Linked DNA regions of Homo sapiens. The protein of the gene in region 1 interacts with the protein of each later gene in a pairwise test. Each region holds a gene or a part of one and is shown on either strand. Other genes may lie near its edges.

The links. The genes of interacting proteins can lie anywhere in the genome.
Region 2: the proteins of ESX1 (region 1) and TRAP1 interact in a two-hybrid assay, tested with the Homo sapiens proteins (one large-scale study listed by BioGRID and IntAct).

What each region holds. Positions count from the first base shown.
Region 1 is NC_000023.11:104,251,475-104,257,211, forward strand, and holds the start of ESX1 (homeobox protein ESX1), read right to left. Parts: upstream 3,460-5,737; 5' UTR 3,376-3,459; coding exon 3,294-3,375; intron 3,104-3,293; coding exon 2,680-3,103; intron 1,355-2,679; coding exon 1,309-1,354; intron 1-1,308. UniProt on the Homo sapiens protein: May coordinately regulate cell cycle progression and transcription during spermatogenesis. Inhibits degradation of polyubiquitinated cyclin A and cyclin B1 and thereby arrests the cell cycle at early M phase. ESXR1-N acts as a transcriptional repressor.
Region 2 is NC_000016.10:3,661,219-3,666,167, forward strand, and holds part of TRAP1 (heat shock protein 75 kDa, mitochondrial isoform 1 precursor), read right to left. Parts: intron 4,901-4,949; coding exon 4,753-4,900; intron 4,244-4,752; exon of another isoform or gene 3,242-4,243; coding exon 3,056-3,241; exon of another isoform or gene 2,345-3,055; coding exon 2,206-2,344; exon of another isoform or gene 1,750-2,205; coding exon 1,664-1,749; exon of another isoform or gene 1,428-1,663; intron 915-1,427; coding exon 769-914; intron 1-768.

The sequences.
Region 1 (5,737 bases):
GGTCTACTTTGTTGGGCTGCTTTTCCAGACATCACACCCACAGGCGTGCAGTGCAGTTCCATCACTACACTCACACACACACCCTGAGGCAAAGCTAATAAGCCCATTCTAACTTTTATTTATTTATTTTTTTGCAAATACTTCCTTGATGCAGCTATGGTCTTCTGTAATTTCAAACAGTCACCTTTTGATCCCATGACCTGCAAAATTAGTCATAACTGCCTGAGTAAATGAAAAGGTATTTTAAATCAACACAGGTAAGAATCTTGCCTGAACTGAGAGAACCCCCTAATCAATCAAATTCCAGAAAACCCACCTTTTCAAAATAATATCACCAAAAAGAATAAAACATCTAAGATGTTTTTTCTAAGGTGTTTACAAAAAAGCGAACATTCTCTTATGCATTTGGTAGTTTCATAAAGTTGAATTTGTGTGACATCTGCAATGCATGTGTTTGACTGTATACAATTCTTCTCTAATCTTTCCACCCTTCTTAGGTAAGGGAATTTTATTCAAATTCTTCTTTCTTTTTTTGTTTCATTTTTTAAAGACAGTTTTCCAAAGCTTACAAATGTTTTCCCCATTACCACTTAATTGAAATATGTTAGCAATGTTTTCAGGCTGACATCAAAATCTTCCCAAAAAATTAAAATTTAGGGCTGCCACTCCCTACTTTAGTACTGTGTTCTGTGTGTGAATTACTCCTTCACTCCAATGCCTAAATATAAATTCACTCATTTAGCTAAGTGCTTGTGCTAGGTTTTAAATATTTTAAATAATTTAGTACAGTGAACCTTCTTATAAAACTGAGCTATTCTGTGCATTAATTTGAATACTTCCGAGGTGAGACTGAGCCCCGAACATGACTCCATATAGAAGTAATCCTTTAGGGAAAACTAACATTCTCCCTAGAGGATACCAGTGTTAGAAGAAGGTTAATCTTATTTATTGGGATATATGTATGTATGTATGTGTATACATGTGCATATATGTGTACGTAAATGTGTATATGTACATATACATGTGCATACACTATATGGAGAGAAAGACAGATACAGATATAGAAGGAAGATGAAAACACATCTTTTTTTCCTTTAGGAAATCATATTTCCTCTGTTTATGAGCAATTTCCATAATCTGAAGTTTACACATCCTATTTTCTACCACTAAAGCCCCTACTGTTCAAAACTTATTTGTCAACCATGGAAAAGACAACAGAAAACACCAGCTTGAGAATGTCCAGGACAAAACCTAAAGCATGCTTTAGAATGGCTGTCCTGCCAAATTGCTTTTTCAAGATTTACTGACCTGCACTCTGTCTTCAGTCAAATTCAGGCGTGCTGCAAGTCTCTCTCTTAGGGGAGAAAATTACAAATATTCAGTATTTGGAGTTGTGGATAAAATGCAATAATATGAACGTGGCTCGGCTCAGCACTTTGGGAGGCCGAAGAGGTTGCTGAGGTCAGGAGTTGGAGACAAGCCTGGCCAGCATGGTGAAACCCTGTCTCTACTAAAAATACAAAAATTAGCCGGGCATGGTGGCACATGCCTGTAATCCCAGCTACTCGGGAGGCTGAGGCAGGAAAATCGTTTGAACCCGGGAGGTGGAGGCTGCAGCGAGAAGAGATCGCGCCACCGCTCTCCAGCCTGGGCGACAGAGTGAGTCTCAAAAAAAAAACATATATATATATATATATGAATGTACATTATTTCTCTCCCCCACCTCCCAGTGCAGTTTTCTGTAATACGGTTGGGACTCGCTTTAGGGAGGTTTTTCCCATTAACAACTTCGCTGTTAAATAAGATAGAAAAAGGAAACATATGTAAAAGCGCCCGATGGTTTGTTAGCTGAATATGACTCAATTCTTCTGTTTGTGAAACAGCAGAGAACAACCCTGGAAATCTTTCCTTGGGAAGTCCGTCCGTGAAAAAAAAAACAAAAAAAAATTAAATGCCAAAACACCTTTAAAGCGCTGTATTGAACCACAGTATTTCTGTTTATCGTAAAAAGGAGAGGTGAACTCTCAGGGAGGGAACTCCAAACCACATCGGCCAAGCGCGCCCTAGGGAAATTCTTTTTTGCTCTTTGCCGGGCGAAGGCTAAGTACAACGAAGCCAGAAAGGTCCCCTTAACCCTACTCTGACCTGTCCAGGTGCCCCCCGCCCCCCATTCCAGCCTGGCCAGAAAAGGCCTGCCCCTTCGTACACTACGGGTCGGTATGAGGAGGGCTCCGATGAGGCTAGCGAAGGAAAGGGGTCGCTGGCTACCGAAAGCTCAAAAGTCCGCCCCCTGGTTGTAAAAGTGCGCTCCACGTGGCAGGGCGGTTACTAGGGCGAAAAGAGTGAGGCGCTCGCCACGCGCGCACAATGTAAATGGCGCTAAAAAACTCGATAATCAAGACAAATAATATTTTAATGCAATATTAAAACGTATCAAAATTAATGCAAAAACAACCCATGGTGAGCAAATTGCCAAAATTTTAAATAAAGGCGGGATCCCACCCTGCCTCACTCGCTTTACCCTAGTCCCGCCCCAGTCTTTTACATCCTCCGCGCCCCGCCCACCACGTCCCCCAAAAACCAAGGGCGGAGGCAGCGCCCGTGAGCCCCCTACGTGGCTTTTAGCTCCGGTGAAAGGGTCCCGGGATGAACTGGGCGCCTCCGGGGCAAGCCACTTACCGCGCCACAACGTCGGGATATTGAGATTCATCGAAAAAGTTCTCTAGCTCCTGCAGCTGAAACTGCGTGAACGCGGTGCGGCGGCGGCGTTTCCTCTCTGGGGGCTGTGGTCCCTCAGCGGTTTGTGGCCCCTCCGCCGGCTGTGGCCCCTCCACGGTCGTCTGGGGCGGCTCCTCCTGCTCTTGCTTCAGCTCGAGCAGGGGCGGCTCCTCCTGCTGTTGCTCCGGCTTGGTCAGGGGCGGCTCCTCCTGCTGTTGCTCCGGCTCGTGGCCGCCGCCACCCTCACGGTCTTGGTCGTCCGAGGGGACGGACCCTTCCGTGCCAACGTTGTTTTCCGCTTCTGTTCCGTACTCAGGTTTGGACCGTGTATTCTCCTCGTCCTCTCCTCCCCTTGCCATCAGCGAGGTCACGGTAAGTTTCTCATCTGGGAAGGGAGGAAAGCAAAAGAGACACCAGGGCGTTGGAGCCCACGGCGCGTGGGCTGGAGGAGGCAGGGGACCCGCTATGGAAGAGCAACTGCGACAGCCGCGCAGCGTCTCCTCCGCTTGCCTCTCCCAGGGAAAAATTCCTCTTTTGGAGTTCGCGAAAGCTCCCGTCCCTGTCCAAGCACTAACCATTCACTTCCTCGATGTCCTCGCCGACTGCCAGGCTGCGGTAGCCAATATCACTGTGGGTGTACCCGCGAAGAGACTCCATGCTTCAAGCGCTGTCGATAAAGCTGTGCACTTCTGCAGACTCTGTGCGTGGTTCCGCGGCGATCCCGGGGTTGGAACTGGCTCTGGGACCAATGGCTCGGGCGAGCGCTTTTCTGGCGCCGGGACCTCTTTCTGGCGCCGTCTGGCACTTGCGCGCCCTATATAGCGGTACGGTGCCTTCCGCAGGTTCAAAGCGTATGCACACGCGTCGGTTAAACGCCCCCTATTAGCATTCACAGTACATCTAGTTGTGAGTGCGACCCCCGGGGGACGCATTCGTGTCCAGGGCGTACGAAAAATAGGGCGAGCGTGCGCAAGCATGGTGCAGGTAGTGAACATGCTTTGCGGGGAACAGTGGCCCCAAATTGCTGCTTAACTAACTACTCCCAACTTGAGCAGAGACCCAGATTGGAAAAAGCGGCTGGGTTGTGAAAGCCGATTTGGGGGCGAGGAGACGAGGGGGCGAGGGGGCGAGGGGGCGAGGGGGCGGGGTGAGACCTCGCACCAGCCCGTGGAGAGGTATTTTGGCAGTGTTCCTCCGCCCAACCGTCTTTACCCCGCAGCACTTGGGTGGAGCGATGCCCTTTGCTTCCCCCACGGAAAAGACCGAGAGATGGCGTTGAGGAAAGCGCGGAAAGTTCAGCAGCCCAAACATGCGAAAGTGAACTTGTTAGTCTACCATGCAATTGGGTTCTGAGCACGACTCTCCCCTGCTAGAAATTAGTGACAAATGGATAGGACTATCTAGTTCTGTACAGTTCGCGCCAAAGTCAGGATAGTGATAAGGTGCAATGATTGGCTAGAAGGCTGCTTGCTCTGGATTTTTGAATTCAGAACCCACCGTGCATTCCGGGAGCGGGAATTTGGGGCTGAATTTGAAGAGCAGTCCGCTGCTCAGGTGCACGCTGCAAGAAACCCAACGTGCTTTTTGAGAAAGCTCCAAGGACTTAAGCTTTTTAGTAATGAACTTATGTCAGAGTGCAAGTATAGAAATCTGCTAAGTGCATAGTGCATCCAAGAATGCTTACACTACGGGGGCCCCGTCTTTTGATGCGCGGCACTTGAAACGTCTGCTGTACTAGGTTCCTGCGCTTCTTATTGCAGCGCGCTTTGCAGAAGCCCGTTCTGCAGGCTCCTAAAGCGCGCGTATTCCCCGGGTTTGTGCTGTGGACCTGGGAGAGTTCCCGCCTTCCCCACTACCCCTTCTTCCTCCTCCCCCTCCCTTTTTCTAGAACTATCTTCCTGAATTCTTGCTCCATAGTGATGTATCACATTAAAAGTCCTGGGCTATGATTGAAGGCTGTATGGTTCTCCCTCCAATAAGTGTTTGCAGGTTCTCCAGGACGTGTTAATATCCGTAATATTATAAAAATAACTCTGTAGACTTAGTTACTAGGGAGGCTGAGGTGGGAGGATCGCTTGAGTCCGGGAGGTCAAGGCTGCAGTGAGCCATGATCAGGATACTGCACTCCAGCCTGGACGACAGTAGACCCTGTCTCAAAAAATAAAAAAATTAAAAAAATTTTTAAAAGCCTGCTAATAATTGGCCCTATGCTTGCCACTGTACACGATTTATCTTACTTTCGCCTTGATAACCACCATTATCATCCCCCCCCCTTTTTTTTTTTTTGAGACGGAGTCTCGCTCTGTCGCCCAGGCTGGAGTGCAGTGGCGCGATCTCGGCTCACTGCAAGCTCTGCCTCCCGGGTTCACGCCATTCTCCTGCCTCAGCCTCCCGAGTAGCTGGGACGACAGGCGTCCGCCACCGCGCCCGGCTAATTTTTTGTATTTTTAGTAGAGACGGGGTTTCACCGTGGTCTCGATCTCCTGACCTCGTGATCTGCCCGCCTTGGCCTCCCAAAGTGCTGGGATTACAGGCGTGAGCCACCGCGCCCGGCCTATCATCCCCCATTTTTTAAAAAAAATACAGAAGACTGGGGCCCAAAGAGCCAGGCAACTTGCCAATGGCAATACAAGCCAGTTTTAACTACAAAATGTGTGCATTTTTCACTATATTACGGCTGTCTTAATTCAAAGGAGTAAATAATAGTGGGATTTCAGGTAAGAGTAGAAGGAGGTGGCATTTGGGGGAGGCATAGTCTTTACAATTCCTGGGTGTGAGGGGTCTCCTCCTTCTCTTGCACACTAATTCAGGCCTCTTCCCCTTGCTTCAGGGCCTCAGCTGGATGTCCTTAAACCACAGGGTTGGGATCCAGCACTGCTGGGTTCCCGCAGCCCACCACTTCACGTTTGCTCAATACGGAGAGGATATTAACGGGCAGGATGCTGCATGCACTAGTTGCTGAGCTGGTGTCTGGAAGACCTGCTCAGGAGGCAGAGGTCATGAGGCTCACCCTCACTCT
Region 2 (4,949 bases), on another chromosome or scaffold:
AATAGATCACATTCATGGGTGCAAAGAAGTGATACTGTAAAAAGAAAGAAACTCAAAAGATACCTAAAGGCAGGTGAAAAGACATTTACAACAGATAAAGGGCATATAAAGAACAACAGGAAGAAACGAGGGAAATCTTACGGCTCAGCCACTGTCAGGGCTGGGGGGTTCTCGGTGCACCCTGGAAGCAGCTCCCACCACCGGGGCCACAGAGAAACCCACACAAGCCCCAGACACGTGGACAAGAATACTCAGAGCAGCCTGGCTCTCCACAACTTCTGACCAAGAACCACCGGAGGCCCAGCAGAGCAGAACGGAGCAGTCTGCTGTGCCGAGGTGGGTTTCTGCAGCGGACATTATTCGGCTATGAAAATGAACTTGTGGCAGCCCCTCTGCATGGGCAACCCTCATGCCAAGTGAGCAACGTGAGACTTCAGCAAACACCAAGATCCACGTACAAAGCTCAAAACAGGCAAAACTGAGCATGTCCAGGACACGCACAGGTGGCAAAGCCATAAAGCAAAACGAGGACATGGTCACAGGCTGGGATGTGGCTAACCTCCCAGGTGACACCTGGGGATGGTAAGGGGCTGGCCAGGTTCCATTTCACATGGGTGCAGCCTAAACTGCATACAGCTCCTTATAGTTACCCACATGTCCACAGGCCTCACGCACTTTTCTTCTGTGTCACATTCCACAACAAAAGAACACCACACACAGGATTCTGGGGAATCCCACAGGCTGGAAGAGCCAGGAGCGTGGCCTCACCTGGGGTTGATCTCCAGCGTGGGCTGCAGGAGCTGTGCGCGCTCCTCCTGGGTCTTGGCCAGCTGCTGCATGCGCAGGAAGTGGCGGGCAGCCCCCATCTCCAGCACGGTGACCATGGCAGGGTGGGTGTCCAGTCGGAGGGTCACCTGTGAGCAAAGCCCGGGGTTGAGGGTGATAGAGGTTCCCAATGTGAGAGGGCTGGCAGGATCTTACCAGGGGTGAAGGTCACCCAGACCACGAGGTAGCAGGCGGGGTCTCAAGGACTCCCCTGGACCAGCGCTGCTCCCTCCCCATTACCCACTAACTTGTGGGCCCTGAGCTGATGCCCCACGCAAAGATACTGTGCCCGAGGGGCTCCACCACCCTGGTGCCCCGCTGCTGCCTCCAGGAGCTGCCCGAATCCATCGTCCTCTGCTCCATGCCAGCCCACCCTGCATGAGGCCCCTTCCTCCAAGTGACCATGCATGGGACGCTCATTTCTCACTCTGAGCTAGACAGGTTGGTGGGGGGAGTCTTAGCTCTCTGAAGCCCACCCAAAACCCCCGACTAAGCACCCAAGTGAGCATGTGAGCTCCTGAGGGCTGGGGTAGCATGTCCCTTGTTTGGAACCCCCACGTCCTCAGCCATTGCAGCTCCCACTCAGGATGCTGGTTTTTCAGTTCTCAGTTCACACCTGCTCTGGAGCAGGGCTGGGAGAAAGACACGGCCTTCCTGCCTCAGCGGCACTCCCGAGCAACACGTGCCGAGCAGGGACCCACAGGGTCTCCACCTGACACCAAGGGCTTCTGCTGCTGCTGGAAGGACACCCAACGGGCCAGGTACTGGGAGCCACCAGCTGGCCAGCCTGTTAGGGACACTGCGGCCAAGTGGTGGTCCATCCCCGGGAAAGCCTCACCTTCACGTTGGTGACACGCGACCCCAGCACATTTCTCATCCAGGCCATGAGCTCCTCCGTCTCCTTCTCTGATAGGCACTCGGCGGCTGCGGAAGAGCAGGCGACAGGGAGCTCAGGCCTGCATCCCAACTCCCCGGCTTCCATGGGGGCCACGCAGCATGCTTCCAGCTCCCACCTCCTCTCCCACCAGGATGGAGACACAAGCTAGCAAGATGCTTTTCATCTAAAAGTAAAACCTCAAAGGATGCTTCAGGTTGCCTGAGGCCCATACAACTTGGTTAGGGCTTTAAAAAAATACACAGCCTCTCAAGAAGCTGGGCCAGCTCCAGAAGCCACCGTGGCAGGAGCACTGGACAGACCCCTGATATCTAAACCAGGAGGCACCTTCCTCCAGTCACCAGGGTGCTCCCACAAGGCTCTTCTCGGGGGTGGCTGAGCCCAGGTCAACTGACGAAAACCCAAAGGAAGCCCTCGCTGCGGGGCAGGAGAGGCGTGCGGGGAGTGGAAACCAGCCCCACGCCTAGAGAGCAGGGGATGCCGACCTGGGGACCTGTCCTCAAACTTCTCCTCCTTGTAGTGATCCACGACTATGTCCGTCTCCACAGAGATCAGCTTCTTCTTGTCAAACTCACGAAGGTGCAGCAGGGTGAGCTCATCAAACTGCTCAAAGCAGAAGAGAACCTGCAGGTGGCCAAGAGCAGCTCCATCAGACCCCGGGGGCCTCCAGCCACCACAGAAGAAAGGATGAGGGCGGCAGGAGGGCTGGGGGAGCCAAGCGGGCCACACTGGGGAACACCGGGGCAGTTGGGGTTCCTAGGCCTGCATGACAGTTACTACGACACCTGGGTCTAAGGAAGGCTCTGACTGCCTTCAAGGCAGAAGCACTCCACGCATAAAGAAATCCACATGTGGCTGAGTGCAGTGGCTCACGCCTGTAATCCCAGCACTTTGGGAGGCCAAAGCAGGCAGATCATGAGGTCAGGAGTTCGAGACCAACATGGTGAAATGCCGTCTCTATTAAAAATACAAAAATTTGCTGGGTGTGGTGGTGTGCACCTGTAGTCCCAGCTACTCAGGAGGCTGAGGCAGGAGAATGACCTGAACCCAGGAGGCGGAAGTTGCAGTGAGCCGAGATCGCACCACTGCACTCTAGCCTGGGCGAGAGAGCAAGACTCCATCTCAAAAAAACAAAAAACAAACAAAAAAAACCACATGTGACCTCCAAGTGGGAAACAGCCGTCACAGTCGGTCCGGCCTCTGTGCCCGTGACCCTGACCCACTGTGCAGCCCTGCCCGGAGTCTTGGGCAGGTTCACCCAGCACAGAGCTGAGAAGGTCAAGACCCTCCCCAGGTTGCAGCCCCCGGAGCCCGCCCCACCCACCGCTCACCCACCTCTGTGTCTTTCTTCTTCATGGCCTCATAGTAGGGTGAGTGCTCTGCCAGGTGACGGTTGGGGGCGCACAGGTAGTAGATGTTGCGGGTGCCGGCCCGCATGCGGCTGGCGTATTCTGAGAGGCTGGTTAGCTGCCCGGAGGGCAGCGCCGAGGACTCGTAGCGCAGCAGCTTTGCTATGTCCTCCTAGAAGGGACGGGGCAGGTCACCACTTATTCCAGGCCCATGGGCTCAATGTTGCCCAACTAACTGGGCGCAAACCCTCCGATGCCCATGGCCTCCTGGCACTCCAGGCTGGCCCTGACCCGAGGGACGGTAGTGGACTCGGGGGTTGTCCGAGAGCAGGCCTTGCTCTGCCCATCAGGCCCCTTTTGGGAGCTCTGGGGGCTTAGGAAGCACCTCCTGCCCCAGGTGGCCCAGGGGCTCTCCAGGGAGCTACGCGCACCACGCCCTGGGAGGGGACCCCACCCAACAGCAGAGCCCGGCCTGGACCCAGCGTCTTCCCTCTGCCCTCAGTGACAGAGTCAGTCTCTGGTGGGCACACGGACACGGGTGAAGTCCACGGTTCCCGGCCCTCCTCACAGCTGGCTATGGCAGAGACTGGCTTTGCCCAGTGGGTTTCAGTGGGATTTGGAGAAGGGCCCTTAGGGGAGGGGTTTGCCCTCCTCCCCATCAGCTGAACGCAGCTGTGACCTCTAGAGCTCATGGGAGCTGCAGCTGGAAGGACGCAGGGGGAAAACAGAAAGAGGGAAAAGCAAGGAGCTGGACACCCAACCAGCAGGGCCCAGGCCACCCCTGCACACATGGTGGGTCTGCATTGATAAGACATGTCACACGTGCACACCTACAAAGACCTAGAAATGTCTCTGACTCTTACCTGTGTGCTGTTAACTCAAATGAAGATAAAGGAGAATGAAGAGGCCTGTGTCAGAAGCTGCCGAAGTCGGCAAACAACCAGAACACGGCCTCCTTGGGACCCCACACACGTGGTCACCCTCCTCCTGCTGCTGGGGAGAAGGGACACCAGCACGGGATGGGCTCCTGGGATGAAATGTTCTGGGGTTACAGTGGAGGCAGCCACACCACACTGTGAATGCACTAAATGCCACTGAATTTTACGTGTTAAAAGGTGAATTCTGTGAATCTGATGCTATGTAAGTTGTATCTCAATAAAAAATGGACAAAAAATGTTTATGGAACAAATGTTTCGTTTTTCAGCCATCCACTATTGGATTAACTGAACGACTGGCCCCTGTAGCATAGTATTTGGAGACTGATATCCAGTACATGATGAATAGTCCCTCAACAGACACTGAGACCACCCACTTCCCCACCCACGGGATCGGAGTCCTTGGCTTGTCCCACCTGTCTGTGGCTCCCCAGCCCCCAACATCCTCTGAGGGGAGACAGTGTGTGCACGCCCTCTTCCTGCCACTCCCTGGGCTGCACCTTCACACAGCAGTGAGGCTGAGCCCTTCAGAGCACAGCACAGCACTGGTGGGAGGGTAAGGATGTGCCTGGAAGGTGCCAGAGGCCCAGAAGCCTGGCCTTCCATTTCCTGACCCTGGTGGCAGCAGCAGCAGCAGCCAGGGTACCCAGCTGCACCGTCGCCACATCAGGGGACACCTCCACCAGCTTCCTCAGCAGCCCCAGGGACAAGGTGGCCCAGAAAAAGGCCTGGAACACAGCTCCTATACCTTGACCTCCTGCTCGGTGGCGGTCACAATGCCCTCCCGCATGAACAGGCCGTAATCTTCAAAAAACTTTGCATACTTCTCAGCATCTTTTTTACTCTGGTCAATGAAGAATTTGATCAGCCTCTGCTGTAAAACGTCCCGGAGTTTCCTACAGAAAAGAAATGCATTTAATACATACAAGCAGCCTCTATGAAATA